Linked DNA regions of Homo sapiens: region 1 is linked to region 2. The links come from fine-mapping of genetic effects on gene expression. A gene starts in region 2. The other region holds a variant in brackets. All regions are shown on one strand. Distances are from middle to middle.

Evidence for each region. PIP is the estimated chance that this variant, and not a neighbour inherited with it, causes the effect. A credible set is the group of variants that fine-mapping cannot tell apart.
Region 1: its variant is the best candidate, but not a certain one, in a credible set for the expression of RGL4 in whole blood (INTERVAL, PIP 0.53).

The regions. Positions count from the first base shown.
Region 1 is chr22:23,650,523-23,666,064 of GRCh38, reverse strand. It overlaps the pseudogene GUSBP11 and the pseudogene ASLP1. Among named protein-coding and RNA genes, the nearest start is that of DRICH1, 26 kb to the right of the region's middle. The variant A/GA (reference allele first, on the strand shown) is at 8,130.
Region 2 is chr22:23,685,032-23,700,573 of GRCh38, reverse strand. RGL4 (ral guanine nucleotide dissociation stimulator like 4) reads right to left here and starts at 9,561. Exons shown (of 11, transcript NM_153615.2): 1 at 8,365-9,561; 2 at 8,046-8,239; 3 at 7,583-7,905; 4 at 6,600-6,815; 5 at 6,124-6,227; 6 at 5,555-5,624; 7 at 3,886-3,960; 8 at 3,329-3,403; 9 at 2,713-2,736; 10 at 2,241-2,362; 11 at 1,406-1,730. The coding sequence starts at 8,543. The coding sequence ends at 1,691. It also overlaps the pseudogene GUSBP11. RefSeq lists enhancers at 3,840-3,919, 4,654-5,154 and a silencer at 15,118-15,412.

The sequences.
Region 1 (15,542 bases), 35 kb after region 2:
GCTTCTCTAGTTCTTTTAATTGTGATGTTAGGGTGTCAATTTTAGATCTTTCCTGCTTTCTCTTGTGGGCATTTAGTGCTATAAATTTCCCTCTACACACTGCTTTGAACGTGTCCCAGAGATTCTGGTATGTTGTGTCCTTGTTCTCGTTGGTTTCAAAGAACATCTTTATTTCTGCCTTCATTTTGTTATGTACCCAGTAGTCATTCAAGAGCAGGTTGTTCAGTTTCCATGTAGTTGAGTGGTTTTGAGTGAGTTTCTTAATCCTGAGTTCTAGTTCGATTCACTGTGGTCTGAGAGACAGTTTGTTATAACTTCTGTTCTTTTACATTTGCTGAGGAGTGCTTTACTTCCAACTATGTGGTCAATTTTGGAGTAGGTGTGGTGTGGTGCTGAAAAGAATGTATAGTCTGTTGATTTGGGGTGGAGAATTCTGTAGATGTCTATTAGGTCCGCTTGGTGCAGAGCTGAGTTCAATTCCTGGATATCCTTGTTAACTTTCTGTCTCGTTGATCTGTCTAGTGTTGACAGTGGGGTGTTAAAGTCTCCCATTATTATTGTGTGGGAATCTAAGTCTCTTTGTAGGTCACTAAGGACTTGCTTTATGAATCTGGGTACTCCTGTATTGGGTGTATATATATTTAGGATAGTTAGCTCTTCTTGTTGAATTGATCCCTTTACCATTATGTAATGGCCTTCTTTGTCTCTTTTGATCTTTGTTCGTTTAAAGTCTGTTTTATCAGAGACTAGGATTGCAACCCCTGCCTTTTTTTGTTTTCCATTTGCTTGGTAGATCTTCCTCCATCCCTTTATTTTGAGCCTGTGTGTGTCTCTGCACGTGAGATGGGTTTCCTGAATACAGCACACTGATGGGTCCTGACTCTATCCAATTTGCCAGTCTGTGTCTTTTAATCGGAGCATTTAGTGCATTTACATTTAAGGTTAACATTGTTATGTGTGAATTTGATCCTGTCATTATGATGTTAGCTGGTTATTTTGCTCGCTAGTTGATGCACTTTCTTCCTAGCCTCGATGGTCTTTACAATTTGGCATGCTTTTGCAGTGGCTGGTACCAGTTGTTCCTTTCCATGTTTAGTGCTTCCTTCAGGAGCTCTTTTAGGGCAGGCCTGGTGGTGACAAAATCTTTCAGCATTTGCTTGTCTGTAAAGTATTTTATTTCTCCTTCACTTATGAAGCTTAGTTTGGCTGGATATGAAATTCTGGGTTGAAAATTCTTTCCTTTAAGAATGTTGAATATTGGCCCCCACTCTCTTCTGGCTTGTACGGTTTCTGCTGAGAGATCAGCTGTTAGTCTGACGGGCTTCCCTTTGTGGGTAACCCGACCTTTCTCTCTGGCTGCCCTTAACATTTTTTCCTTCATTTCAACTTTGGTGAATCTGACAATTATGTGTATTGGAGTTGCTCTTCTTGAGGAGTATCTTTGTGGCGTTCTCTGTATTTCCTGAATTTGAATGTTGGCCTGCCTTGCTACATTGGGGAAGTTCTCCTGGATAATATCCTGCAGAGTGTTTTCCAACTTGGTTCCATTCTCCCTGTCACTTTCAGGTACACCAATCAGACATAGATTTGGTCTTTTCACATAGTCCCATATTTCTTGGAGGCTTTGTTCCTTTCTTTTTATTCTTTTTTCTCTAAACTTCTCACTTCATTTCATTCATTTCATCTTCCATCACTGATACCTTTTCTTCCAGTAGATCGCATCGGCTACTGAGGCTTGTGCATTCGTCACGTAGTTCTTGTGCCGTGGTTTTCGGCTCCATCAGGTCCTTTAAGGACTTCTCTGCATTGGTTATTCTAGTTAGCCATTCGTCTAATTTTTTTTCAAGGTTTTTAACTTCTTTGCCATTGGTTCGAACTTCCTCCTTTAGCTCCGAGTAGTTTGATCTTCTGAAGCCTTCTTCTCTCAACTCGTCAAAGTCATTCTCTGTCCAGCTTTGTTCCATTGCTGGTGAGGAGCTGCATTCCTTTGGAGGAGGAGAGGCACTCTGATTTTTAGAGTTTCCAGTTTTTCTGCTCTGTTTTTTCCCCATCTTTGTGGTTTTATCTACCTTTGGTCTTTGATGATGGTGACGTACAGATGGGTTTTTGGCGTGGATGTCCTTTCTGTTTGTTAGTTTTCCTTCTAACAGTCAGGACCCTCAGCTGCAGGTCTGTTGGAGTTTGCTGGAGGTCCACTCCAGACCCTGTTTGCCTGGGTATCAGCAGCAGTCGCTGCAGAACAGCGGATATTGGTGAACCGCAAATGCTGCTGCCTGATCATTCTGCTGGAAGTTTTGTCTCAGAGGAGTACCCGGCTGTGTGAAGTGTCAGTCTGCCCCTACTGGGGGTGCCTCTCAGTTAGGCTACTCGGGGGTCACAGACCCACTTGAGGCAGTTTGCCCATCCTCAGATCTGAAGCTGCGTGCTGGAAGAACCACTACTCTCTTCAGAGCTGTCAGACAGGGACATTTAAGTCTGCAGAGGTTACTGCTGCCTTTTGTTTGTCTGTGCCCTGCCCCAAGAGGTGGAGCCTACAGAGGCAGGTAGGCCTCCTTGAGCTGTGGTGGGCCTCACCCAGTTCGAGCTTCCCGGCTGCTTTGTTTACCTACTCAAGCCTCAGCAATGGTGGGTGCCTCTCCCCCAGCCTCGCTGCCGCCTTGCAGTTTGATCTCAGACTGCTGTGCTAGCAATGAGCGAGGCTCCGTGGGCGTAGGACCCTCCGAGCCATGTGCGGGATATAATCTCCTGGTGTGCCGTTTGTTAAGCCCGTTGGAAAAGCACAGTATTGGGTGGGAGTGACCCGATTTTCCAGGTGCCGCCTGTCACCCCTTTCTTTGACTAAGAAAGGGAATTCCCTGACCGCTTGCACTTCCCAGGTGAGGCGATGCCTCGCCCTGCTTCAGCTCACGCACAGTGCGCTGCACCCACTGTCCTGCACCCACTGTCCTGCACCCACTGTCTGGCACTCCCCAGTGAGATGAACCCGGTACCTCAGTTGGAAATGCAGAAATCACTGTCTTCTGCGTCACTCATGCTGGGAGCTGTAGACTGGAGCTGTTCCTATTCGGCCATCTTGGCTCCCAGACCCTTTTTTTTTTTTTTTTTTGAGATAGAGTTTTGCTCTTGTCTTTCAGGCTGGAGTGGGGTGCAATGGTGCAGTCTTGGCTCACTGCAACCTCCACCTCCCAGTTCAAGAGGTTCTCCTGCTTCAGCCTCCCGAGTAGCTGGGACTACCATGCCTGGCTGATTTTTGTGTTATTGGTAGAGACGGGGTTTCACCATGTTCTCCAGACTGGTCTCAAACTCCTGACCTTAGGTGATCCACCCGCCTCAGCCTCCCAAAGTTCTGGGATTACAGGCATGAGCCACTGCGCCCGGCCCATTATATCATTCTTATGTGTTTGCTTCCTCATAGCTTAGCTTTGGTATATAACTGTTTTGGAATTATCATCCTTGGCTACTAGGATCAGTGATAAGGGTGACACTAGTCTGAGGCTGGACAGGCCACTCCTGGGCAGATGTCTTTGCAGAAGTATTTTTTGTGTAAGGTTGTGATGGCCTTTGTGTAATGTTGTGAGTTGTGTTTTTGAGGTAGGGTCTTGCTCTATCACCTGGGCTGGAGTGCAGTTGCACTGTCAAGGCTCACTGTAGCCTCAGCCTCCTGGACTGAAGCAATCCTCTTACCTCAATCCTCTCACCTCAGCCTCCCAAAGTGCTGGGATTACAGGCATGAGCCACCACACCCAGCCGAGAATGGGGCACTTGTGCACGAGAGTCCTCTCTTCATGGCCTTTCCCTGGCTCTATTTTTCAGAGTTGTTTTTTGTTGTTTTGTTTTGTTTTGTTTTGAGATGGAGTCTTGCTCTGTTGCACAGGCTGGAGTGCAGTGGCGGAATCTCGGCTCACTGCAACCTCCGCCTCCTGGGTTCAAGCAATTCTCCCGCCTCAGCCTCCCCAGTAGCTGGGATTACAGGCACCCGCCATCATGCCCAGATAACTTTTGTATTTTTGTAGAGATGGGGTTTCACCATGTTAGTCAGGCTGGTCTCGAACTCCTGACCTCAGGTGATCCACCCACCTCGGCCTCCCAAAGTGCTGGGACTACAGGTGTGAGCCACTGTGTGTGGCCGCAGCTCTATTTTGACAATTTTCACAGTCTCTTCCCACTTCCTGTGGCTGCCAGCATTCATTGGCTTGTGGCTGCCTCACTCCAGTCTCTGTCTCCATGGTCATACTGGTTTCTCCTCTGCTGTGTGTCCTCTCCTCTGTGTGTCTGTCTTACAAGGACACTGTGGTCACATTCAGGGCACATCTAGATAATCCAGGATCATCTCCTCCTCTCAAAATCTTTAACATACTTTAGGCCGGGTGCGGTGGCTCATGCCTGTAATCCCAGCACTTTGGGAGGCTAAGGAGGGTGGATCACTTGAGGTCAGGAGTTGGAGACCAGCCTGGCCAACACAGTAAAACACCATCTCTACTAAAAATACAAAAATTAACTGGGCATGGTGGCGCATGCCTGTATCCTAGCTACTCAGGAGGCTGAGGCAGGAGAATCGCTTCAACCTGGGAGGTGGAGATTGCAGTGAGCCGAGATTGTGCCACACACTCCGGCCTGGGTGATAGAGCAAGACTCACTCTCAAAAAAAAAAAAAAAAAAATGCAAAAAAGGCCGGGCAGGGTAGCTCACACCTGTGATCCCAGCACTTTGGGAGGCCAAGGCAGGCAGATCACTTGAGGCCAGGAATTCGAGGCTAGCCTGAACAACACGGTGAAACCTCATCCCTACTAAAAGTACAAAAAAAATTAGCTGGGCATGGTGGCGAACACCTGTAGTCTCAGGAGACTGAGGCACAAGAATCACTGGAACCTGGGAGGCGGAGGTTGCAGTGAGCTCAGACCACGCCATTGCACTCCAGCCTGGGCAACAGAGTGAGACTCTGTCTCAAAAAAAAAAAAAAAATCTTTAACATACTTTTCCACTTAAGGTATTAGTCACTCTTGTGTTGTATAAGGTAATATCCACAGGTTTTGGGAATTAGGTTTTATCCAGAGGTTTTGGGACCATGTGGCTATTGAGGTCTTGACATATGACTAGGATAACTTTATTTAGTTTAATTAAAAAAAAATTTTTTTTTGAGACAGCCTCACTGTGTTGCCCAGGCTGGAGTGCAGTGGCGTTATCACAGCTCACTGCTCAACCTCCTGGGCTCAAACGATCCTCCCTCCTCAGCCCCGCAAGTAGCTGGAACCGCAGGCATGTGCCACCACACGTGGCTAATATTTAGACTTTTTGTAGAGACTGGGTCTCACTGGTTGTCTAGGGTGGTCTTGAACTTCTGGGCTCAAGTGATCCTCCTGCCTCGACCTCCCAAAGTGCTGGGATTGCAGACCTGAGCTGCCATGCCCAGCCTGGTTTAATTTAATTTTACATACATACATTTATTTATTTATTTAAGATAGGGTCTCACTCTGTCACCCAGGCTGGAGTGCCGTGGTGGAAACACAGCTCGCTGCAGCTTCGACCTCCAGGGCTCAAGCAGTCCTCCCACCTCAGCCTCCCAAGTAGCTGGGAGCACAGTTGTGTTCCACCATGCTTGGCTAATTTTTGTACTTTTTGTAGAGATGGGGTCTTGCTATGTTTCCCAGGCTGGTCTTGAACTCCTAGGCTCAAGCAGTCCTCCCACTTCAGTTTCCCAAAGTGCTGGGATGACAGGCATGAGCCAGTGCACCTGGCCCAAAGTCATATTTTTACTTCTAACGTAGTTCAGCCTTAAGACTGTACCAGCAGATAGAGACGGAAAAGTAAGAAAAAGTGAATATCAGATTACATTTATAAATAAAGCAGTTACTAATTAATATGTTGTTTTTTTAAACCTCCTTTTTAACTCTGGGTTACATCATTCCCTGGCTGTCTTTACCCTAGCATCAGTGAGTCCTGCAGTCACTATAGCCCCCTGCGAGGACAGATATTTTGGTCACCATCAAGTGGATCTTTATTTTTTATCTAACATTTACAATTCTGCCAGTTCTGACTCTTAAATTCTCTTTGCCTTGAATCCCAGGATCCACCTCTGATGTTCAGTGAAGACTACCAGAAAAGTCTGCTAGAGCAGTACCATCTGGGTCTGGATCAAAAACTCAGAAAATACGTGGTTGGAGAGCTCATCTGGAATTTTGCCGATTTCATGACTAACCAGTGTAAGCGGCAGTTTGGCTCATAGGATAATGTACCCGTCCTCATTTTTTCAGGTTGCCTTGCCCATTCTGGACACTTTGATTGTAAGAATATTGGAAACAAAGCGAGGAGCTGGTTTAATCCATGCAGGTTGCGTTGAGGATTTCCTAGGAAAAGTGAGTTGTGCTTAGTAAGTAGGAAAGCAGTCAGGCCCCTGCTTCCCAAATACAGTCAAAAAGCAAACAGGAGAGTCTGCTATAGTGAGATGTAAATGGCTAGCTTGCCTTTTTCTTGTCTATTTCATAGCCAAGGAGGAAGGAAAAACTGGACCTCATGGATTTACTTTAGGAAGGTACAAAGCCTGAGAAGCTTAAGGTATTTCAGTCTGTTTTATATTACTCACTTGCAAAAAGCAGGCTCATCGAATACAGGTGAGTTTCAACACATCTTGAATATGGCAGCATTTAAAAGTCTTTAGACTGGGCATGGTGACTCATGCCTGTAATCCCAGCACTTTGGGAGGCCAAGGTGGGAGGATCATTTGAGGCCAGGAGTTCGAGACCAGTCTGCTAAGCATAGCAAGACCCCTTCTCTACAAAAAGTAAGCAAATTAGCTAGGTGTGGTGGTGTGTTCCTGTAGTTCCAGCTGCTTGGGTGGCTGAGGCAGGCAGATCGCCTGAGCACAGGAGTTGGGGGCTGCAGTGAGCTATGATTACACCACTGCACTTGAGCCAGGGTGACAGAGTGAGACCTGTCTTAAAAAAAAAAAAAAGGGGGTCTTCAAAGACAAGAACATCTGTGCTGTCACGTTGGGTGGATGAGGGGCTGCCAGGTTTGCAATGAATGTTTCCCATTTCTTCTTAGTTTATGGACTTACCATAAACTCAGGATGGCAGTTTGGTGGGTTGGAGAAGGATATGGTGATTGCGGGAGTTACAAGACATTACTTATAGGGGAAAACAGGGTTTTGAAAGGTTAACGCTTAAAAGTGAGAATGGAAAAGGGATGAATGAATGAACAAGATGAGGTGAGATGGAAGAGGTAAAGGGAAAAGGAGAACAAGCAGCTCTTCTCTGCGTGGCGCCTGGGATGAATGGTTTCTGGGGACATCCCTGATGGCAGTTTTGTGGAGAGGCGCAAAACTTTATGTGGTAAGAAATGAGCTGTAGGCCCAGCGCAGTGACCCACGCCTGTAATCCCAGAACTTTGGGAGGCCGAGGAGGGCGGATCACTTGAGGTCAGGAGTTCAAGACCAGCCTGGCCAACATGGAGAAACCTTGTCTCTACTAAAAGTACAAAAATTAGGCAGGCGTGGTGGCAAGTGCCTGTAATCCCAGTTACTCGGAAGGCTAAGGCATGAGAATCGCTTGAACCCGGGAGGTGGAGGTTGCGGTGAGGGAAGATCGCACCTTTGCACTCCAGCCTGGGCAACAAGAGCAAAACTCTGTTTTAAGAAAAAAAAAAAGAAAACAAAAGAAACGGGCCAGGCGGGCTGGGCGCAGTGGGTCAGGCCTGTTATCCCAGCACTTTGGGAAGCCGAGGTGGGCGGATCACGAGGTCAGGAGTTGGAGACCAGCCTGGCCAACATGGTGAAATCCCGTCTCTACTAAAAATACAAAAATTATCTGGGCATGGTGGCTGCTGCCTGTAATTCCAGATACTTGTTAGGCTGAGGCAGAATTGCTTGAATCCAGGCAAGTGAAGGTTGCAGTGAGGCCACTGCACTCCAGTCTGGGCAACAGAGTGAGACTCCATATCTAAAAATAAAATAAAATGGAGGAGGAGGAAGAGGAAGAGGAGAAAAAAGAAGAAGAAACAGCTAGGTGCAGTGGCTCATGCCTGTAATCTCAGCAATTTGGGAGGTGGAGGAGGAGCAGGAGGAGGAAAAGGAAACAACCAGGCCAGTCATGGTGTCTCGTGCCTACGAGGAGGAGGAGGAAGCGGAGGAGGGG[A/GA]AAAAAAAGGAGGAGGAAAAAGAAACGGAGCAGAAGGAGTTGGAGGAGGAGGAGGTGGAGGAGGAGGAGGGAAAAGAAATGGAGCAGGAGGAGGAGGGAAAAGAAATGGAAGAGGAGGAGCAGGAGGAAAATGAAATGGAGGAGGAGGAGGAGGAAAAAGAAATGGAGGAGGAAAAAGAAACAGGAGGAGGAAAAAGAAACGGAGGAGGAAGAGGAGGAGGAGGACAAAGAAACAGCCAGGCCGGACGTGGTGGCTCACCCCTGTAGTCCCAGCTGCTCGGGAGGCTGAGGCAGAAGAATCGCTTCAACCCGGGAGGCAGAGTTTGCGTGAGCCGAGATCGTGCCACTGCATTCCAGCCTGGAGACAGAGTGAGACTCCATCTCATCTCAAAAAAAACAAAAGAAAACAAAACAAAAACAAAAAAACAGCCAGGAGCCGTGGCTCACGCCTGTAATCCTAGCAATTTGGGAGGCGATAAGAATTATTGAAATGCAATAAGAATTACCGAAATGTTGAACAAAGACACCAAGTGAGCACGTGCTGTTGGAAAAATAGCACCAATACTACACTAGCTCAACACAAGGTTGCCACAATCCTGTAATATATTAAAAATTGGGCCAGGCAAGGGGCCGGGAGGGGTGGCTCACACCTGTAATCTCAGCACTTTGGGAGGCCAAGGCAGGCGGATCACCTGAGGTCAGGAGCTCCAGACCAGCCTGGCCAACATGGTAAAACCCCATCTCTACTAAAAATACAAAAATTGGCTGGGGGTGGTGGTGGGTGCCTGTAATCCTAGCTACTATGTAGGCTGAGGCAGGAGAACCACTTGAACCCGGGAGGTGGAGGTTACAGTGAGCCAAGATCATGCCATGGCACTCCAGCCTGGGTGACAAGAGCAAAACTTCATCTCAAAAAAAAAGAAAAGAAAAGAAAAACAAAATGGGCCAGGCGGGCTGGGTGCAGTGGCTCATGCCTGTAATTCCGGCACCTTTGGGAGGCTGAGATGGGTGGATCACGAGGTCAGAAGTTTGAGACCAGCCTGGCCAACATGGTGAAACCACATCTCTACTAAAAATAGAAAAATTATCCTGGCGTGGTGGCAAGCGCTTGTAATCCCAGCTACTCGGGAGGTTGAGGCAGGAGAATTGCTTGAACCTGGGAGGTGGAGGTTGTAGTGAGTGAAGATCTTGCCACTGCACTCCAGCCTGGGCAACAGCCAGACTCTGTCTCAAAACAAACCAACACAAACAAACAAAAACAAACCCCAAAACCAAAATTGATATTTCCCGTGTACATTCGACCTTGACTGTTGCTCATTCAACCCAGCCCAACTCAGTGCCCCATCCCCTGGCCCTGAAGAGACCATTCTGGCCCAGAAGTGTCCTGGCTCGGAGCAGCACCTTCTGCTACCACACTGGGCCTCCCTTCTCCTCAGTGCCCAAGGGGAGGCACCTCACTCTGATCTCCCAGTGGCATCCTATTATGCCTGCCAGTAAGGATAGGCGCTTGGTCCTAGAGCAGAGTGGTCTGCCGTTGGACCAGCCCAGCACTCCAGGTGACCTCAGCCTGCCCCAGGCCTTCCTGTAGGTTGGCACTAATTGGTTTGGCTGCAGCCTTGCATATTTAGCAGTTTTTATTACTAATAATACAGGCAGGGTGGCCCAGGACCCCGCTGGGGGAGGTACTGCCAGGCTCCCAGCTGAGGGGCAGGCTGGCTCCAATTCTGACTGGCTGGCCCCAGTGATCAGAAAGATCCAGGCCCCACCTAGTGCTTTGCTGGAGATCTAGGCTTGGTGGGGCAGCTTGTGGGGTAAGGGGCAGGACCAGCTCAAAAGACGGGGTGGGGGCGGAGGCTCCCTCTGCAGGGCAGAGTCCTTTGGCAGCTGGGGCTGTTGGGCATGGAGGGGTCAGTTCACAGCTCAGGGCCAGAGCACGGTAGAGGTCTCTGGGTGCACACAAGAACCAGGAGTGGAGCTGAAACATGTCCTGTCCCCTGCCTGCCCTCCCTTAGTAACTGCTGGCATTTCCCAATTCCTTCCTGAGCACCAGGCACCATGTTATGCATGCAATTTGCAAATGTTACCTGATTGAATGCTCAAAACAAGGCTATCACATAGGTACTGTATTATTTTTCAGAAGATGTCTTGCTCTGTCACCCAGGCTGGAGTGCAATGGTGCCATCTCTGTTCACTGCAACCTCCACCTCCAGGGTTCAGGTGAATCTCCTGCTTCAGACTTTCAAGTAGCTGGGACTATAGCTGCCCGCCACTGCGCCTGGCTAATTTTTGTATTTTCAGTAAAGACAGGGTTTCCCCATGTTGGCCGGGCTGGTCTCAAACTCCTGACCTCAAGGGATCCACCCATCTGGGCCTCCCAACCCTGAGTTTTTATAATAGGCCCCAGGCCAGGTGGTTAACAGAGGTCTGGGGCATTGCAGGGGGACAGAGGAGGACATATGTCCCTATTGGCCATTGTAGAGTCCCTTCCACAAAAAGGATGTCAGTCAAGTGACGTGCCCACCTCCACCCCACCCTCCCCCCCAGTCCTGGGCACTAGGACTACTTCCCAGGTGCCCTGTACCCTTCCCCGATCTGTCCCATGCCCTGGCCTCTGCCCGCTTTCAAAACATAGATGTGGCCAGCGCCTTGGCTTATGCCTATAATCCCAGCACTTTCGGAAGCAGAAGGATTGCTTGAGCCCAGGAGTTCAAGACCAGCCTGGGCAACATAGATCCTGTCTCAACATATTTTCTGCAAAATTTTTGTTTTTCCTAGACAGAGTCTCCTTCTGTCACCCAGGCTGGAGTGCAGTGGCACGATCTTGGCTCACTGCAACCTCTGCCTCCCGGGTTCAAGCGATTCTCCTGCCAAGCCTCCTGAGTAGCTGGGACTACAGGCGAGCACCACCATGCCCAGCTAATTTTTGTATTTTTAGTAGAGACAGGATTTCACCATGTTAGCCAGGATGGTCTCGATCTCCTGACCTCGTGATCCACCTGTCTCGGCCTCCCAAAGTTCTGGGATTACAGGTGTGAGCCACCGCACCCAGCCCTACAAAATTTTTCAAAAATGTATAGGTGTGGTGGCACATGCTTGTAGTCCGAACTACTGGGGAAGCTGAGACAGGAGGATTGGTTGAGCCCAGGAGTTTGAGGCCACAGTAAACTGTGATGGCACCACTGCACTCCAGCCTGGGTAACAGAGTGAGACCCTGTCTCTAAAAAAGAATTAAAATTTTTTTTAAATAACAAAATGGGCTGGGCTCGGTGGCTCATGCCTGTAATCCCAGCACTTTGGAGGCTGAGGTGTGTGGATCACTTGAGGCCAGGAGTTCAAGACCAGTCTGGCCAACATGGTGAAATCCCGTCTCTACTAAAAATACAAAACTCAACCAGGTGTGATGGCACATACCTGTAATTCTAGCTACTTGGGAGGCTGAGGCAGGAGAATCGGCTTGAACCTGGGACACGGAGGTTGCAGTGAGCCGAGATCGCACCACTGCACTCCAGCCTGGGCGACCAAGTGAGACTCCGTGTCTCAAAAATAAGAACAAAATGTAGATGCCTACGTACCATCTCTCTACCCTTGGCTCCTGGGGAGTAAGGGTCACCCAGTGACCTCCTAGAAGGCCAGTGACAATGGGGGGTGTCAGAGTGCTCTTCAGAGCCAAGGGAGCAGTAGGAATTGGGATCTTAGTCTCTTAGTCTGACTCCAAGCTGTGAGGGAGAGAGTTGCAGGGCACTTAAGCTTGGTGGAGACCGTCAGTGCCTCCTTGCCTGTCCCTGCAGCAAAAGTTCAGGACACCAGAGCCAAGCTCAGAGGCCGTGGTGGAACAGGGGTGAAGAGCATGGGTTCTGACTTTAAACTGCTGGGCTGCAGCCCTGGCTCTCCCTCCCCGGGTAAGGGCAGGCTGCATGCCTCCCTGTGCCTCAGTTTCCCCCTCTTCATAGTGGGATTGTATTGGTGCCTACCCCAGAGAGTTGTGTCATCAATTAGGATGGCACCTGGCACCTTGGTCAGTGGCAGGAAAGGTTCCAGAAGCTCTGCTCTGGTCCCGGGGTGCCTCGGGCCCTGCCACCATCTCCTTGGGGTGGTGCCATGTGGTGGGAAAGACCCCAACTTCAAGGCCAGACGCAGTGGCTCATGCCCATAATCCCAGCACTTTCAGAGGCCGAGATGGGAGGATCACCTGAGGTCAGGAGTTCAAGACCAGCCTGGCCAACATGGTCAAACCCTGTCTGTACTAATGATCCAAAAATTAGCCAGGTGTGGTGGTGCGTGTCTGTAATACCAGCTACTCGGGAGGCTGAGGCAGGAGAATCTCACGAACCCGGGAGGCGGAGGTTGCAGTGAGCCGAGGTTGCACTACTGCAGTCCAGCCTGGCTCTGTCTTGGTGTTCAGCCATGTTCCCATGCTCACTCCCAAGGTGACTCTGGGAAGGTCTCAGCCTTTTTGTCTTCCCAGTTAGGATGGTCCCATGCCCCTGCTACCATCAGACTTGGTAAGTTTCCCAAGGAGACTCTGCAAGAGGCACTGTTCTGGATGGTGGAGGAGAGACTAATTGTTCTGCTCTCCTGGCCAGAGTGGGTGCAGTGGACCCCATCATGGAGAAGTTCAACACATCCAGCCTACGACCAGCACCTGTGGGAGGTGGATATTCAAGGCAGCAGAGCCTACAGCCGGGGCATGGAGAAGGCAGGGCTCCTCGCCAAGGCCGAGATGGATGGTTTTACGTTGAACTAATTATATACTCAAGTGCTGTTTAACTGTGTGCCTTGACCTCTTCTCTCCTTTAATGATCCCTGTGGCCCACATGGCTTATGGGTAAAGGTGTGCTGGGCTCGAGATGCCCCCTCCCAGGGTGCACTTCCAGGACTCAGCTCCTGGACAGGGACAGTCAGTCATCAGGAATAAGGTGGGATCAGGGCAGGGGCTCTCGGCTGCTGATGCCTGCTCACCTGACCCCTGGTATTGCTGCTACGTGCTATAGGTGGTTGAGGAGTGGGCCCAGGGCACCTTCAAACTCAACCCCAATGATGAGGACATCCACACAGCCAACAAGTGCCACCTGAAGGTACGAACCCTGCAGCCCCACTGCCTTCCTGGCCTCCCCTCTCCACCTTGCGCGGGGCCACTTTGAGCATTAGCACCATCATTCTGTGATCATTGGTGAAACCGCAGGGAAGGCGCACATGGGATGGAGCTGGAATGACCAGGTGCCTCTAGCCCCTCCACCCCCCAACTCCATGCTGTCCCAACCTTGGGGAGCCCAGGGGGCAGTCAGAGCTCAGCAGTGGTCCTGGCTCCCCAGGGAAGTAATATGTCAGTTTCCCTGAGCACTACCTCCTTTTCGCACAGGTGGTCACGGACCTCAGGTTGTGGATGTGGCAGACCTGCTTCACGCTCTCGGGCCTCCTCTGGGAGCTCATCAGGACTATGGGGGATTGGGCAGAGGTGTGAGTACCCAAGGGACACCCAGGGGGCAGAGAGAGGTGTGATGGCAGCCTGAACAGCAGACCTAGGTGGCAGGGGTGAACAGGGTGGGGGTGCCAGGCCCTGGGGGACCGGGGCATCCCAAAACTCCAGGGTCGAGGCAGAGCAGCCAGGAGTGGGGCATTTCCTGCAGACGGCAATATTCCCATGGCAGTCTAGCTCAGCTGGCAAGGAAAACTCACCCTTCATGGGGCCGGTGCAGGGGTTCATGCCTGTAATCCCAGCACTTTGGGAGGCCGAGGCAGGTGGGTCAGGAGTTCGAGACCAGCCTGGCCAACATGGTGAAACTCTTTATCTTTACTAAAAATACAAAAATTAGGCAGGTGTGGTGGTGGGCGCCTGTAATCCAATCTACTCAGGAGACTGAGGCAGGACAACTGCTTGAACCCAGGAAGCAGAGGTTGCAGTGAGCTAAGATTGAGCCACTGCCAGCCTGGGCGACAGAGCGAGACCCTTGTCTCAAAAATAAAATAGAAAACTCACCCTTTGCGGATTTAAGGGCAGGAAGCTAAGGCACTAGCTTGGCTGTGCCTGGAGCAGCCAGACTCACCTGCTACCCTGCCTGTGCCCCACGTCTCCCATCCCATGCTCCGCGTCCCCATCTAGCCCATCTGGCAAAAGAGCCAAAGGCTGCCTCATATTGGCCTCATCCCAGGCTTTCACCTGGTGTCTTTGGGACTGGATTTGATCCTTGCAGACCTGGATGGGGAGCTGCTGAGGAGTCTCTGATGTGTTGTCAGAGACCCCTCCTCTTCCTCAACTCCCTGTGACCCCTGGTTCACAGACCTGGGGGGAAACAAGGGCACACAAATTGTCACCCTGTAGGTGGGGCGGGGCTGCTAGGAGAAACAGGGAGTGTCTGCTACTGAGTTCAGGGTTTCTTTAATTTTTTTTTTCTTTCTTTTGAGATAGGGTCTCACTCTGTCGCCTAGTCTGGAGTCCAGTGGCACGATCTCAGCTAACTGCAAACTCTGCCTCCCAGGTTCAAGCAATTCCAGTGCCTCAGCCTCCGAAGTAGCTGGGATTACAGGTGTGCGCCACCACATCCAGCGAATTTTAGTATTTATTTCAGTAGAGATGGGTTTTGCCTTGTTGGCCAGGCTGGTCTCGAACTCCTGAGCTCAGGTGATCCGCCTGCCTTGTCTTGCCAAAGTGATAGGATTAGAGGCATAAGCCACTGCACCCGGCCTAATTTTTAACTTTGTGACTTTTTAAATTGTCTTTAGAGATGAGGTCTTGTTCTGTCACCTAGGCTGGAGTGCAGTGGTTCAGTAATAGTTCACTGTAGGCCCACACTCCTGGACGCAGATGATCCTCCCACCTCAGCTTTCTGAGTGGCTAGAACCACAGGTGTGCACCACTCCCTGCAAATTTTTAAAATTTTTTGTAGAAACGGGGTGTCTCACTATGTGGCTCAGGCTGGTCTCAAACTCCCAGCCTCAAGTGATTCTTCCCTCTTGGCCTCCCAAAGTGCTGGGATTATAGGCTTGAGCCACAATGCCTGGCCTTGAGTACAGAATTTCTTTATGGGGTGATGAAAATGTTCTAAAATTGGTTTTGGTGATGGTTGTACGCTACAATGTGAACTTAAAATGGGTAAATTATTTGTGAATGAGATCTCAGTAAAGCTGGTTTATTTAAAACAACAACAGGCCGGGCACAGTAGCTCACGCCTGTAATCCCAGCACTTTGGGAGGCCAAGGCGGGTGGATGACCTGAAGTGAGGAGTTTGAGACTAGCCTGGTGAACATGGTGAACACGGTGAAACCCCATCTCTACTACAAATACAAAAAATTAGCTTGGCGTGGTGGCGGGCACCTGTAATCCCAGCTACTTGGGAAGCTGAGGCAGGAGAATCTTGAACCTGGGAGACGGAGGTTGCAGTGAGCCAAGACCGTGCCGTTGCACTCCAGCCTGGG
Region 2 (15,542 bases):
TAAGGCACCTTCAACTGCTTCGCTTCGTGTGTCTAGTAATGTACCTTCCCACCAATAGTTTATAAAAGTGTCTTTTTCTGCGTTTCTACGTTGGCCACTGCCTGTGAACATATGGGTTTTTTGTTGTTTTTGGTAAGTTTCATTCTAATTAGAGTGAGAGGTATCTGAGTCTGGTTTGCAGTTAGACATTTGTGTGAGGATTAGTGAAGTTGAGCAACTTCTCTTTGACCTGTCAGTCAATTTCGTGTTTTCTCTTCAGATGTGCCTGTTCAGGTTCTTTGCCCAGTTTTAGCTTGGGTATTAGGTTTTGTTCATTTTTCCAGTTAAGAGTAGTGTTAGTTTCTTGTACATGTTAGATAACAACCCCTTTCACAGATGATTCTGCTGAACTTTCTTTCAATCTGTAGGATGCCTTCTTTAATGGTTCATTGTTTCTCTTCCCCATGCGGAAGCTCTAAAATGATGTTTAGTCCTATGTGTTTGTATTCACATTTTTGTTTTCCATCCAAAAAGAATAAAAAATAAGAAAAAGTATTGCCAAATCAATTGCATGGTCAAAGGGTTTCTTGCCATAGATAATTTTTGGTTTTCTTTTCTTTCTTTTTTGCAAACTGCGTGCATAGATACAAGTTTTGCCGAAATAGAAACTCCCGCTTTTCTTATAGGAGCTTTGCGGCTCCAGGATTGGATTTAGGTGTCTATTTTGTGTTGATTTGGGGGTATTACATGTTTCAGACCCTGAAATGTTGATTTCTTTGGCATGTTTTTGTCTGATATCCCACAATGGGGGTTGTGTTCAAATTAAGCTGTGGGACATCTTTTAGATACTGAGTTCAAACAGTTCTCACCTTCCTTGATGTTCATTTAGGGGAGAGGTGTCAGAAGGTCTGGGAAGATCCACAGTGGAAAAAGTTTATCTGTATTTCGTGGAGACTGATGGCCAGCTCCCTTCTGCCCAGGACTTCTGGAGAAGGCCAGCCCTACCACTTGCTTAAATACCTCCCATCTCCAGCCCTTCAGTAAATATTTAAGTGATTTGTTAAATATTTAAACCTTAAGAAAATTGAGTAACCCAGTGGAACTTGAATTTAACTAGAATTTAAGTTTGAGAATAGCTGGTCAGTAGAACAAATGTGACATACTATGGGTGACATAGATTGGGTGACATACTATGGCTTTTAAGGGGTTTTGTTTTGTTCTGTTTGTTTTCTTAAGCAGAGTTAACAATAATTTGAATAAAGAAGGAAAACATTAAATGCTTGGCATGTGTAATGTGAATGCTATTCCATAACTTGTTCAGCCATAGCCTCAATTTGACATGCTAGGCTATGAATCCTAAAGACTGGTATATGGTTACCGCACTGGAGTTACTTTTCTCATTCCAACAACTACAGAACATTTTGAATAGTTTTTTAAAATTTTATTTTAACGAAAGTTAAGAAAAAACCCTTACTTATACACTAAAGAAAATAAACATAAAATGGTCTCCCGCCTGACTCACAAAAGTCCCATGGCCTGATCCTGGCCAGCAGGAGCAGTTGGTGATGAGGATCCAGGGCAAGATGCAGCTGAGCTGCCAGCCTCCTAGATGTGGTTCCCTGGTGTCTACGGTCTGGGTGAGGGATGGTGCAGAGCCGGTGTTCTGGCCAGCATCCCGGTGGGTTCCCAGCCACTGCAGGATGTTGCCAGCCTACGGGTTTTCGGGCTCCAGCTGGCAGGACAGCTTGTAGCTGCAGGACAGAGAAGCAGCTGTGAGGCCACCATGAGCCACACATCAGGTCCCCTGTCAGTGCCTGCCCAGCTGGAATCCTGGGTCCCCAGTGGTCCCCATGCAACAGGGCTTGATGCTGGCCGTGGAGGCATGGCCATAGGCTCTCTGCAGCTGGCCACGGGAGAGCCTCCTCTAGGCCAGGTGGGGTGGCTCACACCTGTAACGTCAGTACTTTGGGAGGCTGAGGTGGGTGGATTGCTTGAGGCCAGGAGTTTGAGACGATCCTGGACATCATCGTGAAACCCCATCTGTACCAGAACAACAACAGCAGAACAACCGGACATGGTGGTGTACAGCGGTAGTCCCAGCTGCTTGGGAGGCTGAGGAAGGACTTGAGCCCAGAAGGCAGACGTTGCAGTGAACAGAGATGGTGACACTGCAGTGCAGCCTGGGCGACAGAGCCAGACCATGTTAAAAAAAAAAAATGGAGAGCCTTCTCCCACCCTCAGCCCATGGGCTAGGCCCTCACCTCTCTTTGTCACTGAGCTGCTCCATTCTTGTGAAATAGGTGACAAATTTCTCAAGAGGCCGAAGCCTGTAATTCATGGCAGCCACTTGGAGCAGCTGCATTTCCTGCAGAACTCGGACCTCCTAGAGACAGAGGACAGGATGCTGACAGGGCCTGGGTGGAAGTTGCTGTGGGGGCCTTTGGCAGGCAGGGAGAAGGGGCTGGTCCCTGGGGCAGTTTTCTGAAGGGGTCCCATGCAGCGCCCCCAGCCTGTTCTCAGAGTTGGATATAAACAGCCCCTCCTGCAGGAATTGGTCTTTGATTCCAGTGCTTTTCCCATTTTCTCCTGGGATAGGTCCCCTCCTCCTGTGTGTGTCAAACACTCCCAGTAAGCCTAAGATGTAGAGGATGGAGCCAGGGAGTGTCCTGCCCAGGGTGGACTGTGACGTCCACATCCCCACCCTCATCCAACGTGAGTGCCCCAGCTGCTCACCTTGCTCCTCTTGTTGGTGTTGCCCTGGAAGGCAGACAGAGTCCATCAGAAAGGCCCCTGGCCCACAACCAGCCCCACCCCACCCCTTCCCATGCTGCACTACTGCCAGGGCCACCAGGGTCAGGGGATGTGCACACGACAGGACTTGGACCTGCCTCAGGCTCCGGGCTCTAGAGCAGGGGGAATGGGAGCTGAGGCCCAGGGACCTTCTGCCCCAACCCTCTGTGATGACAGACAGGGAAACTGAGGTCTCTCATAGAAAGAAAGCGCTCAGTGACCTTGGAACTGCCTGCCCTTGGAGAGGCTCAATTTCACCCTCCTATTACGGGACTACCCTAGGGAGAAGCTGAGCCCAGTTCAGCCCACACCTCAGCAGCTTTGCAGTCAGGCAGCTCTGCAGCTTCACCACTCAGGAATAGGGCCTGGTGGCTGCCATGGAGCCTCCATCACTCAGAGGTGATGAGATGGGCCTGACACCCCCACCCACAGGAGCAGCTGTGAGGCTCTTAGGAGAGGAGGTTTGCCAAGGGCTGAGATCTAAAGGCTCGGTCCAGGACCCTCTCCTCCCAAGCTTCAGGATCTTGGTTCCCAAGCACCCTGCCCCAGGCTCACTCACATCCAGGTCGTCCGGGATGGCCGAATCCAGCCTCTGTAACTCAGTCAGAAAATCCCCCAGGAAGGGGACCACACCCTGTGCCAAGGAGGGGTGGGGAGGTGGGAGGGGTAGTGGTGATGAGTATTGGCCCTCAGGTGCCTGCCCAAGGTCCTGTCCCATGAAATCCCATCAGCCCCTGTCTCCCAGAGCCCCCTCCTCAGGTCTCCCGGTTGGAGCAGCCAAAGACCCTCAGCTGCCTTTCCCAATTCTCTGCCTCCTGTATCCCAGCTGACCTCCAAGTCTAGCAAGCACTCCTTGTTAACCTCTATGGTGGGATTTTAACAAGTCACAAAGGCCTGTGGTCCCAGCTTTACCCTTCCCCACATCTAGTCTGAGTCCAGCTTTCCCAGACCCTTCCTCTGGTCTCTCAAATGAAGGTTTTCCAGGCCCAGTGGCCACAGGAGGACAGGGCTGGGGAGGAAGCCCCCGCTGTCTTGATATGGAGGCCTCCAGCTGGCGGGGAAGGGAGCCCTGTCCTCTGATCCCCTGCGGCCCGTCCATGCCACAGGCTCACTCACCTTCTTCTGCCTCCGCAGCCTCATCTGGACTCTCTGGGGGTTCCTCTCCTGGGTGGCCACCTTAAAGCTCCCCGCCTGCCAGGTGTCAGCGACAGGGACAGTGAGGCTCTCCTCCTCTCCCCCAGTTACACCCCAGCCACCCCGCACTTGGATCCCCAGGGAGTGGCGGGAGCCACCTGGCACCGTGCTCATACCACTGGCCCAGATCCACACTCCCTGTGTGTGTCACCCAGTCTTGCAGCCGGGCCTCCCTGAGACTGTTTCCTCTTCTGTAAAGAGTGATGCAAACCACAGCTACCTCACAGGGCCTCTGAGGGCTCAGTTTCCTGTAGCTGTTGCCGTTGTTCTCACCGTCATCCCTCTGAGGAAGAACCAGGCACGAGCACCCTCAAATTGCTTTCTTTTCTTGAACTTCATTTCTACCCTGTGAGGCCTGCACTACAGGCTCAGCATCCCTTCATTTTCCAGATGAGGAAACAGAGGCCCAGAGCGGGCAGTGGCTCCCCAGGGCCCCCAAAGAGAGGACGCCTCCTTCTGCTCCTGGAGGCTCCGTCTCGGCTGCCTTCAGCTCACATCCCAGCACCACCACCCATCAGGGTCGTGTTCTCTGGAGTCTTTGAGTGTCTAGGTCTCCAGCCACATACAGTCGTGATGGGAAAGGGACAGGGCATTTTAGGAGACCTGGTTAAGTGGCACCTGCCTATCCCAGCCCCACTGGAATCTCTGCCACGCAAACTGGGTTTGAGCCATGCCAAAGGCTTCGCCTCGCCAATGATCCCCCAGGGGAGTTCCGTGCACGGAACTCTCTCTTTCTCCACTGAGGAAGTAGCCTCCTGATGCGCCATCTCTGACTGCAATGGCAGGGTTTTCCAGAGTCCTGGGTGGGGTGACATGTTGCCTTCTCATTTGCATGGACGATTCTGAGATCTGGTCAGGGAGGATCCCCTAGCAATGTATGAATCCCCCAGATACTTGTCATGAGCATGCGTCGCTGCTAACCGGTGAGAATCCTCTGACATGACCGTTTTTGGGTGTCTGCAAAGGGCAGAGTGGGGAGTCCCAGCAAACAGCTACGTCTGTCCCCAGTATGCCCATTGGTACCCAAAGCTGGGCAGTTACTGGACTCCCTGCCACATGAGCTTCCTCTGTTGTTGTTCCCCCTCTCCCCCAGTGCAGGCCAAGGCCCCCTGCCCATGGAGGTGTGCTGCAGACAGCAGCAGCAGCAGCAGCAGCAGCAGCAGCAGCAGCAGAGGCCTGGCTTCCTGAGGAATTGCTGGCCGGTTTGAGGAAGGAAGGAAGTCCCACCTACCATGATCACCCTCCAGCCTGGAGGAAGCTCCATGCCAGCAGCATGGACCAGCATGGGAGCCAGAGCCCTGCTAATGCTGCAGCTCATCACCCCTGCTCAGCAGCCCAGCAGCCCAGCAGCCATTGCCACATCCCATTTCCAGGGCCTCCTGCCCCCATGCCCCCACGTGCCCATGGACCGACACACCACTCTTCCTGTTGGCCCAAGGTAGGCATGGAGGGAATTTTTCAAGTCCACTTTTAGTAGGTAAGTCAAAACCAAACAAAATAACCACTCGACACCTGGTCCAATGCCCTTCCAAACTCACTCTTTTCTCTGACCCTTAAACACTTGTCCTGCATCTCCCAGACTCCACTGTACCTTGATCAGTAGGTCCCTCTTCACTGCAGTGTCTTTTTTGCAGAGTTCTTTTAGCTCTTTCATGCTTTTGCTATGGGCAGAGGAAAGAAAGAAGGGTAAATTTGGGAATCAGGGGAGATTTGTGAGTTCCAGTCCCTTTTGTTTGAAAACCCAGTGAATCCCAGCTTACTGGGTGAGAGTTTTCAGTGGAGTCCTCTGATCACAGGGGCTCCAGAGGACCAGGGTGGGACCTCTCATGCTCCTCCCCTGGGCCCCATCTCCACTTCACATGAGCCACTGCGTGTTTACAGTTAGCTTTCAGCTGGACACAGAGTTCCACTGCTGGGTACAAACACCTGAAAGCCTCCAGTTGGCTCCAGTCTGTTCCTGATGGTTAAAAAACCTTAGTCCTGAGTTGGAAATCCTTGCCTAGGAGTCCAGGGCAGCTTAGTGACCACAGCCACCGGCCCATCCCTGCCTCCAGTGTCCCTGGACTCCAAGAACCTTTCAGAGTCATTGAGGGCACATGGGGGGAGACCTGTGAGTCCCTAGGTCAACCCTGATGCTGCCATGGAGAGAGCCCTCCTCACCTGGACACTCCTGCCCACGTCTTGTGTAGCTGACCTATTGGGTTGCTGCACAGAGCAGAGACGATGACGTGCACCGAGGAGAAGTTGTTGAGGCTTAGGCACTCCTGGAGAGGGAAGAATGAGCTGTGCGGTTCAGAGTTGGAGCTTGGCCCACTACAGCCTCAGCCCCCTCTGCTGAGATCTCCCCTCCTGGATGAAGCAGAGGCCTGGGGAGCCTCAGGAGGGCAGACCTGGGGCCGAGTGGATGTCACTCATCTAGGAGGATTTTAGTTCAACCCAAGGAAGACCCCAGGTCGGAAGTGAGCAGCCACCACTGGGCCGTGGGAGTCAAGGTGAGTGAAGCTCTGGCAAGAAGAGCCTAGGGGATGTGCAGGGTCCAGGCCAGAGATACAGATGCCGATCCTGAAAGCCGATGGAGGAGAAGAGGAAGTTCCCCATTTTTAAAGAGGGAATCCCCAGGCCCAACCATAGCTTACCCTGGCCACCTTGATCCAGTGCTCCACCACCCTGGCCCTGTCCCGGGCCCTCATGCTGTGGTCCCCGAGGCAGGAGGTGGTGATGCAGTTGGTGAGCCTGTTGAAGTGTGCGATGGTGGCACGAACTGTGGGTGCCATGTGCTCATTCCCCTTCAGATGTCCTTGGCCCCAGATGCAGCCCAAGCATTCGTGGAGCACCACCTTCTTGAACAGCTCCTTTGGGGGAGGAGGAGAGTGTCACGGACACAGCACACTGCAGCTCAGAGTCACCCACAGTCCCAGGCAGGGACTGAGCTCACAGTCATCCACGGTCTCTGGCAGGAACCAAGCTGGAGCTCAGAAAGCTTTAAAATGGGCTCCAGACTTGTGGGAGTCCCTGGGTTTGGTTTTCTGCCCCCGAGGGACCTGAATGCATCATGGCCTAGAACCCAACAAGGGTGGGAAGAGAGAGTGACATTTTCTCCCAGGCCATCCACACTCTAAGAACTAGAAGGTGGCTCAGGCCTGCCCATCCTGAGGCCTCGTCTTCCTCCCATCCCAATCAGCCCTCTACTACTCCTCTCCGTACCGGTGCACTTTCCTTGTGGCAGCTGCAACTATGGGCTCTGTTTGGGTGTCTACCATAGAATCCAGTATGCATCAGGTACCTAATAAGTGCTGAGGGTAGTGAGGCTCCTGAGCAGCTGGGTGAGTGACCCATGGCCCTGCCTGCCCCACAGTGAGCACCTGCCCTGCCCTGCTTTCTGTCCATCTCCTGTCACTCAGTCTGCACAGTCACTCTGTGCAGCTGGCGCTGGTGATGTCCCATCTCTGCCGTCCACATGCAGACAGGGAAGGCTTGTGGGTGAGGAAACTCATCCAGATCCCACGGTTGGTAAGAAGTGGGGCTGAAATTGGACCGAGGGCATTGGCTGCTCCTCAGGGAGAGGCTGGTCTGAGACAGCTGGTGCCAGAGACACAGCCTGCAAAGCTCAGCTGCTCACCGCATCCATGAGGGTCAGCTGCTCTGCCAGCAGCCTGGGAGGGAAGGTCGTCATGTCAGGCAGCTCCTCACTGGGTTGGTTCTTTACAGACCCACGACAGGGACAGGAGGACTCTGGGGCTGACTGTGGCTCCAGCACTGTCCCTGGAGGGGGCCCTTCCCCTGGTGCTGGTGCTGGCCCTGGTGCTGAATGTAGATATCCTGGTGGACCCAGGGCTGCAGGTGACTCTGGCTCCAGAGCAGGCCCCAGGTCCGCCAGCAGTGGTGGTGCTGGCTCCAGGGCCGGCATTGTTAATGCGTGTTGCCCAGGACGTGGAGCAGGATCTGGAAAAGGAGAAAAGGTCACCACACCAGTCATTTTTCACTGGGTTTTCCAAGCACAGAAATGACCGGGTGGAATTTAAGGGAATTGTAGCCCCAAAACACCACCCCCGGAAAGTCTTGCAGACTGCAAGCCCCCTCACCATCTGGCTTGGCCTCGTTGGGCTCCGGAAGCACCAACTGGCCTAGGACAATTTCCTGATGGTCCTCCAAGCCCAGTCCAGGCCAGGAGAGGTTCCTGAAGGCCAGCTTTATCCGGAAAGATGACCGTTGCGGGGGCTGATAGTAAACTGAAGTGTTTTCGGGGGGCCAGTTGAACAAAATGGAGGTGATGGTGCTGGTGATGGAGTAGACAGCTGAGTCAGAGGCCTGGCCTTCTCCCACACAACCCTCCAGGGCACCCCTGCGTGGTTCTGGGTCCCTGGCCTGTTGCTGCCAGTGTGGAGGACAGCCCCACCCTACCGTAAGCCATCAGTGCTGTCCTGGAAGGGGCAGACCTGGCCATACAGCAGGGCTGTACAGACCCTCGTGCGCCCTGGCGTCCCACAGACATTCTCTTCCCAAAGGCCCTGGAGCACAGCACTGTACACCTGGGCACTCAAGACTGCAGCTGCAGGCAGATTTGTGAGCAGCTTCCTCATCAAAGCTCCAGATCTGGGTCCCCTGGTCCTGGGGTTAGGAGGGAAGGGGCAGATGTCGGGGGGAGGAGGACAGGGAGAGCTGGGAAGCCACGGTGCTGAGGGGGATGGGTCTCTCAGTGGCCAGCTGTGACCCCAGCCTCCCCTCTGCTTTGCAGGGGACCTAAGTCTCCATTTACAGAACTCACTATTTGCCTCTTGTGGGGGAAGTCCCCAGATGTCAGCCTTCTCGTGGGAATTATAAGAAGTATGAGCCCCAGAGCTCCTTTAGTCTCTCCCCAGCCAGAGTCCACATATTTTCCCCCATGTTTTGTGGGTGAAAAGGCCCTTCAGAACCCTAAATCCACCCAGTTTATATTTGTTGCTGGGCTGCGTCATTCTAGTCAGAATCTGGGAGGATGCCACCATACGTAGAGGAGGCCATGAGGGTCTCACCTGTAACATTCTGTAGATATGACTTGTTTATTCTGTCTACTGTGAGTGCCTGACTCTGAGTAGAATCAAGGCCGGGGGATTGTCATCTGCTTTGTTTATGAAATTATGCCAAGCCCCAAGAAGAGCGATGCACAAATGAGGTGTTTTGAATGTATGTGTTGAATGAGTGAACCCCAACCTTTGGAGAACCCCAGTGAGCCTCTCCAGATGTCTGAGTGGGCCTGTGGCTCCTTTTTCAGCACCAAGGGACCCCTCTTCTGTCTGTGTCAAGGAGAAAGACCAGCCAGAAGGAATCTCAGACATCCTTTACCAGTGCCATCGCAGACTTGGTTTCTATGTGTTTTTCCAAACAGTGAGTGATACAGGCCATTGAGGCAGAATGCTGAGAGCTGCTTCAAGTGAGGGGGAAGAGAAAAGTAACAAACATGAATCACAGCACCCCCAGCAGATTTTCCAGAGTTTTAGGCTCTAGGGACCCCTTTGTTTGCTGTGTCTTAGATCATTGAGTCCCTACAAGAACCCTGTGAGGTTCGTCTTCTCACTACTCCCTGTTCCAGAGGAGCCAACCGAGGCTCCGAGAGGTGCATCTTCAAGACAGAGCCAGTAGGGGACAGAGGCACCTCTGTGTCTTGGAGGGGGATGGACACTCACCTTCTAACCAGTAGTTCCAAAAAGTGTGGCACAGTGATAAAGTCCCAGGAGGGGCCCAGGCAGGTGGCATAGGAGGAGATGGGTTTAGTTAGAAAGGCTGGAACCAGGGACTCCCAACAGCTTCTCCCCAGTGCCGGGCTGGAAAGTTAGCATCCTGCAGATCTCATTTTCATACTAGGGGGACAAGGAGGGACATGGGAGTCAGTGGTAACACCATGGACCACCAGAGGATCGGGATCTGGAACTCACACCAAGAAGCACCAACCCTTCAGGGACTTGTGCATATGGAGAACCTGGGTGCCCATGGTGAAAAGCGTTCTAGGCTTTCAAAGTAACATTGCATGTGAGGATGGAGAATGATAAAACGATTCCTGCCTTCAAGGCATCGTCCCGGTGTTTGTCAGCTGTGGGGCAACAGCACCCTCTGTGTCAGCAACCTGCATGAAGAGCATCATCCCTGCAAGTCCTCAAGGCCTGGGGAGGCCTCATCCCCTCCTCATTTCAGCAACAGCACACAGGACAATACGCTCTAGAAGAACTCTTTGACTTAAAGGTATATGATTGTTTTTGTTCCTTTAACATGAACGTGAGTCTGGAGAAACAGCTACGGCCATCCCAGCCCTGGCCAAGGGGAAAATGCCGGAAGACTCCAGGGTGGGAGGAAGCGCGTCCCAAGGCCCAGGATCTGCGAGGCGACTTGGGGAAAACGCAGGCAGGTATTGAACCCGTGAAAGGTTACGCAAATGTATGTTTGAAAGTGGAAATGAAACAAGGATTTTCTCTGCCACACAGACAGCAGGTTGGCGAAAAGTTAAAAGCGTGTTAGTATTCAGGGGAGGCTGCGTTCAGAGAAGCAGCTACCTTCAGAGGCTGCTGGTGACCGTGTGACCAGCTGGAGCCCTTTTGGAAAGTCAACTAGCTAGAGCTGTTGAAAGTTGATATCTGCATATCCTTTCACCCAGATATCCCTTTCCTGGGTGTCTGTCTGCTGCAGGGGATTTGTTTATTTTATGGGTTGAATTGTGTCCCCTTCCCCAAATGTAACTGTTTCTATTCTCAACCCCAGAGACTCAGAATGTGACTGTGTCTGGACACAGAGTACTCCAAGAGGTAATTCAGGTGAAGTGAGTTCATTAGGGTGGCCCCTAATTTAACATGCCTGGGGTTCTTACAAGGAGAGGGGGTCAGCGCACAGAGAAGTTCAAGAGAAGACCCTGTGCTGACTGAGATAGAAGTCCGCCATCTCCAAGGCAAGGAGAGAGGCCCAGAGAAACCACCCCAGGCTGACAGTTTGACGTTGGACTTCCAGTCTCCAGAATTGTGAGGAACCAGATTTCTGTGGTTAAGCCCTTCAGTCAGGGTGCCGTGTTATGGCAGCCCTGGCAAACTGCTCCAGCCTATTAGGACACGCATAGGATTATGCTCCTTGTAGAAAGGCTGCCTCGAAAGGGAATTTTATCATGACAGGCTCCACCAGCACTGAGAGGCTGACCCGCTGTGGAAAATGGCCTCCCTTAAGGAATGTTACAATGACATGCGAGGGTACAACTCCTGCCTGATGGGGCTGCAGGGATGAGTTCTGTGAGATGACACTTTAAAGACTAATGCATAGAGTCGCTTCACCTTCTTTTGTTGTAATCAATGCACCCCCCCCACCCCCACCCCTTGTTTGTGCAAAAGTGTTGGATTTTAAGTCCTGGAGGAGGTCTGGCAGGGCAGCGGAGCTGCCTGCCTGTTGCCGGAGATCCACTTAGGGTGGGGAGTTAAAATGATAACAGTGTGAGTATTTTGCTGCAATGTTACCATTGTACTCAATTCTTAAAGCAACATGCCGAGATACTCCTGGCATAGCCTAAAGTGAAAACAGAAGGATTTTCTCTGGTCTTCCTCTGATAGGTGAAAGGGACTTTGCCTGTAACCAAGTTGCCACTGGGGACTAATGGCAGCCAGATTCCTTTGGGAGAGGACAGTGGGTCACTCAAGTGGGAACGCCCTAGGATGGAGCTTAGGGAGTCCCCATATTCGTGTCTGAGTCCTGGGCCCACCTTGGTTTTCACAAGTCCTGTCTGTGGAGACCCTTCTGTGCCCAATCTCACCGCAGACCGGCACTGGACGTGGTTGGTGGTGTGGTGCACGTGCCCTTTGAAGAATATGGAGAAATTGAATCCATCCAACAGCTCTTGTTTGGTCTGTTGTGTGGAGCTCTGCAAAGAGAGTGCCCGAGAGCCGGGCCAAGAGGTGTCAGTGGCCTGTCTGGCTGACCCCACAGTGGGACACCCCCATTAGAACTCATCCCTGGCACCCCCTTCCCCAACAGGATTTGGCACATAGGAGCATCTGCATAGACCTCCAGCCAGAGAAGCCTGAGGTCTCCGGCAGATGACAGCTTGAGGACTTGGGATTCAGATCTGAGCAGACAAACTGTGTCCTTGACACTCACCTTCCCATCCTGCCAGGCACTGCCTGGGCTGTGAACCTGACATACCTACCAGGCTCCAAACACCTGACAACCTACCTGCTCCTATCCAGGGAGGGCCCCTCATCTCCTGTTTCCCCCAAACAAGTGGGGAGGGGCCTGAGGCTGCCCTGATGGGCACAGCTGAGGCCTAGCCTGGATGGGCCTGCCCTGGGCCCTGTGTTACCTGTGGGTGCCTTCTGGCAAAGGGCCAGAGGCGTCGAGGGTGAGGGTTGAACCAATGTCTATATTCTCGGGAAAGACTCTCATTTTGGCCTCTTGTGCGACGAGGAGGTCGGCAGCATGTCGGGATACAGCAGGAGAACATGTTGTTCTCTCGAGCATCGCCTACGAAGTGAGCTGGAAATGGGGCTGTCTCTAGAATGTGGGTGCCTAGTTACCAGAATTGTAAGTTCTGTTGGGGGTCTGTCGGCAAGGAAGTGAGGTCACATCTTGTAGGTTCCATCCTGTAAGCTCCTCCTTTCCATAAGTCCTACTCAAAGGCCCCTCTGGGCTTCTGACCGCTCACCCTCCCCCGTCAACTCCTTACGTAGTCACCATTATGAAAAAGTGTGCCCCTTCAGCACCTTGGGAAGACCTGGATATAACCAGGGTCCCAGGTTTGAGGAGACAGTGCTGGGTCAAACAGCCTTTATTTTAGCAGTTGTGAGACCCTAGAGAACTCCTTTGGTGTTTTGGGGTCTCCCCAGCATGCACAATGGGGGTTATGCTAGCATCTCTTTCCTAGGGAACTCATGAGGTTATGTTTGAGATAAATATTTAAAAACTCATGGTGTGGTGTTCCCTGTGGATATTGCACACACTTAGAAATGGAACAAATACAAGAAGGGGTGAGAGGTAACGTCTAATGCAACTCCAGTGGGCCTGGGGTCCACAGTGTGATCTCGGGAAAAGACACTTTTGCTCTGGGCCTCATCTTTCATGCTGCACCAGTAGAGGTTGAGATTAAATGAAATTCAGACATCCTCCTCCTATGACATTGCACCTTCCAGTGCCTTCCCATTTTATTTAGACCCAGACCCTGTGCCTCATCTCAGCCTAGGGTGGGCAGCGTCCACAGAGACAGCACTGAGGGGTTAGTGACTCCCTTCTGAATGATGGAATATGACACAGATGATGGAATAGCACTTCTGGGCTAGTTCAGGCTGTTACAGCAAAGAAAGAGCTGTAACGGCCTGGGGAGCTCATCAAAAACAGAACTGTATTTCTCCCTGTTCTGGAGGCTGGAAGTTGGATATCAGAGTAGCAGCGTGGTCGGGCTTAGTGGTGACACTGCCGCCCCATTCATTGAGCTTTTATAGGTGCTGTCCTTTCCTTGGAGGACGCCTCAACTTTAGGAGCATGGGTAGACCTCCATTCAAAGCCCAGCTCCCCCTTGTAGCTTGGTGATCGTGAGGAAGTCATAGAACATCCCTGTGCCTGTTTTCTCCTCTGAGAAATGGCGTTAGTGAGAATTGTTTCCCTTTTTAATCACAGAAAATAAAGCATGCGAAGAAGTTAACTTGGTGCCATTGGGCAGAGGGTGAGAGCCCAGCAAACCGGAGAGATCAGCTGCCCACATCAGTGGCGAGGAGTGCGGAGAGTGGGTGAGGCTGGGGCAGGAAGCAGGCCAGCCTGCCAGAGCCCAGGAACAGGTGAAAGGCAAGAGTGAGCTCCTCACCCTGAATTCTCAGGGTTCACAGGCATGCAGGGGCTGTGGGGAGTACAATCATCAGGGCTGCTCTCGTTCCCCTGGTTCCCTCCATATCTGACGTGGTCCCAGGGCCCCTCTCCCTGTGTTTCCTCTCTGCCCTACTTTCTTTCTGGCTGCCCTCCCAGGACTCATTTTTGGCCCTGGTAAGGTGGAGTCTTGAGGTAACTATAGGCCTATTAATAACTCCTCTGATGTTCAACCTGCCATTTGTTGAGACCTCTGAGCTTAGTCAGAAATCTGCTCCTGCTGGGACCTGAGAGAGGGCTGGAGGGAGCTGACAGTGCAATGGCAGTTTTCCCTGGGGCAGCCACTCCAGGGTCTATTGGCAGGTATCTGCCGAACTGGAGCTTTCTTTTGGGTGTCTGGTGTTCTGAGGTGTGATTTTCCCTCTGAAGATAGGCTGAGCCCCAGGTGGGTGCCTTAGCCTCAGAAATGGGTCCCCCTGAGCTGGGAGCTGTGCTCTACCCTCAGTGTCCTAGGACACCTCACACCTGGCCCTGCCCATTCTGGCTTCCGAAGCCCACAGAGAGGGTCTGTAGAAATTGCTAGATACAAAAGGACTACAAATAAGTCATAGGAAGTGTATTTACATAACGCAGTGGTTTTCAGCCATTACTATATGTTTACTTCAGCAAAGGCAAAATTTAAGAATGTTAATACCCTGTGTCACCCTGCAGAGATTTGGATTTATTTGATGGGGCAGGAGACAGGCATCTTTGGTTTTGTTTTGTTTTGTTTGTTTCTTTTTTGAAAGCGGGACTTTGCAGTGTTGCCCAGGCCATAGTGCAGTGGCATGATCATGGGCACTGCACCCTTGATCTCCCAGGCTCAAGGAATCCTCCCTTCTCTGCCTCTCAAGTAGCTGGGACTATGGGCATGCACCACCATGCCATGCTAATTTTTGTGTTTTTTGTAGAGGTGGGGTCTCACTGTTCCACCCAGGCTGGTCTTAAAAGTCCTAGCCTCAAGCTGTCCTCCTGCCTCAGCCTCCCACAATGCTGAGTTGACAGATGTGAGCCACCATGTCTGGCCTGTTCCTTTGAAGAGCTCCCTTAGTGTTTCTAATGGGCATCCAAGCAAAGAAGATTTTGCTGGCAGAAGGCTCGTGGAACCCTACTGAGGCCGCATCTTCTTCACAGCCAGCAGATCATTCCCTGAAGTATCTGCTTAGCAGTGCACAGGCTATTTATATCCTGGGCTTTGGGTAGCTGTTGGGTTTGGGGACTGGCTGGCGCATGAGTATTGGCTCTGGGATCTGTCACAGCCTGGTCTTGTGGGACACCCAGTCTAGGATCCTCCTTCCCAGACCACCATTGTTCCTCTCACTGCCCCTATGGCAGGAGACCAAAGCCATGACCCCATGGTCAAAGGCATCCATGTGCAGGACTGAAGTTGAGTGACTCATGTGGGGAGGGGCGGGGCACAGCTGCTTGCTGGAAGGGTGTTGGGAAGTATTGGTCCATCAGCTGTCATGTCCACCTTTTCCTGCTGAATCCCAGCGATCCTCAGTGGTCTGAGAAGGGTGTGACACCTGGGTTCTTGGCTGGCTGAGCTGGTGCTTTTGCAGCCTCTTTGGGGCTCTTGTATGTGAGGTCTCACCTGAGTTGCTTCAGGAAACCTTTGACCCTCAGGCTACCTCCTGCTTAAGAGCAGAGCCTTTGTGTGGAGATCTGGCTGGCCTCTCTAGCATCCAGCCTGTCCTGTCCTGTTATGTCTCGGTTTGAGGTTGTGCTGAGGGGTCTCTTCC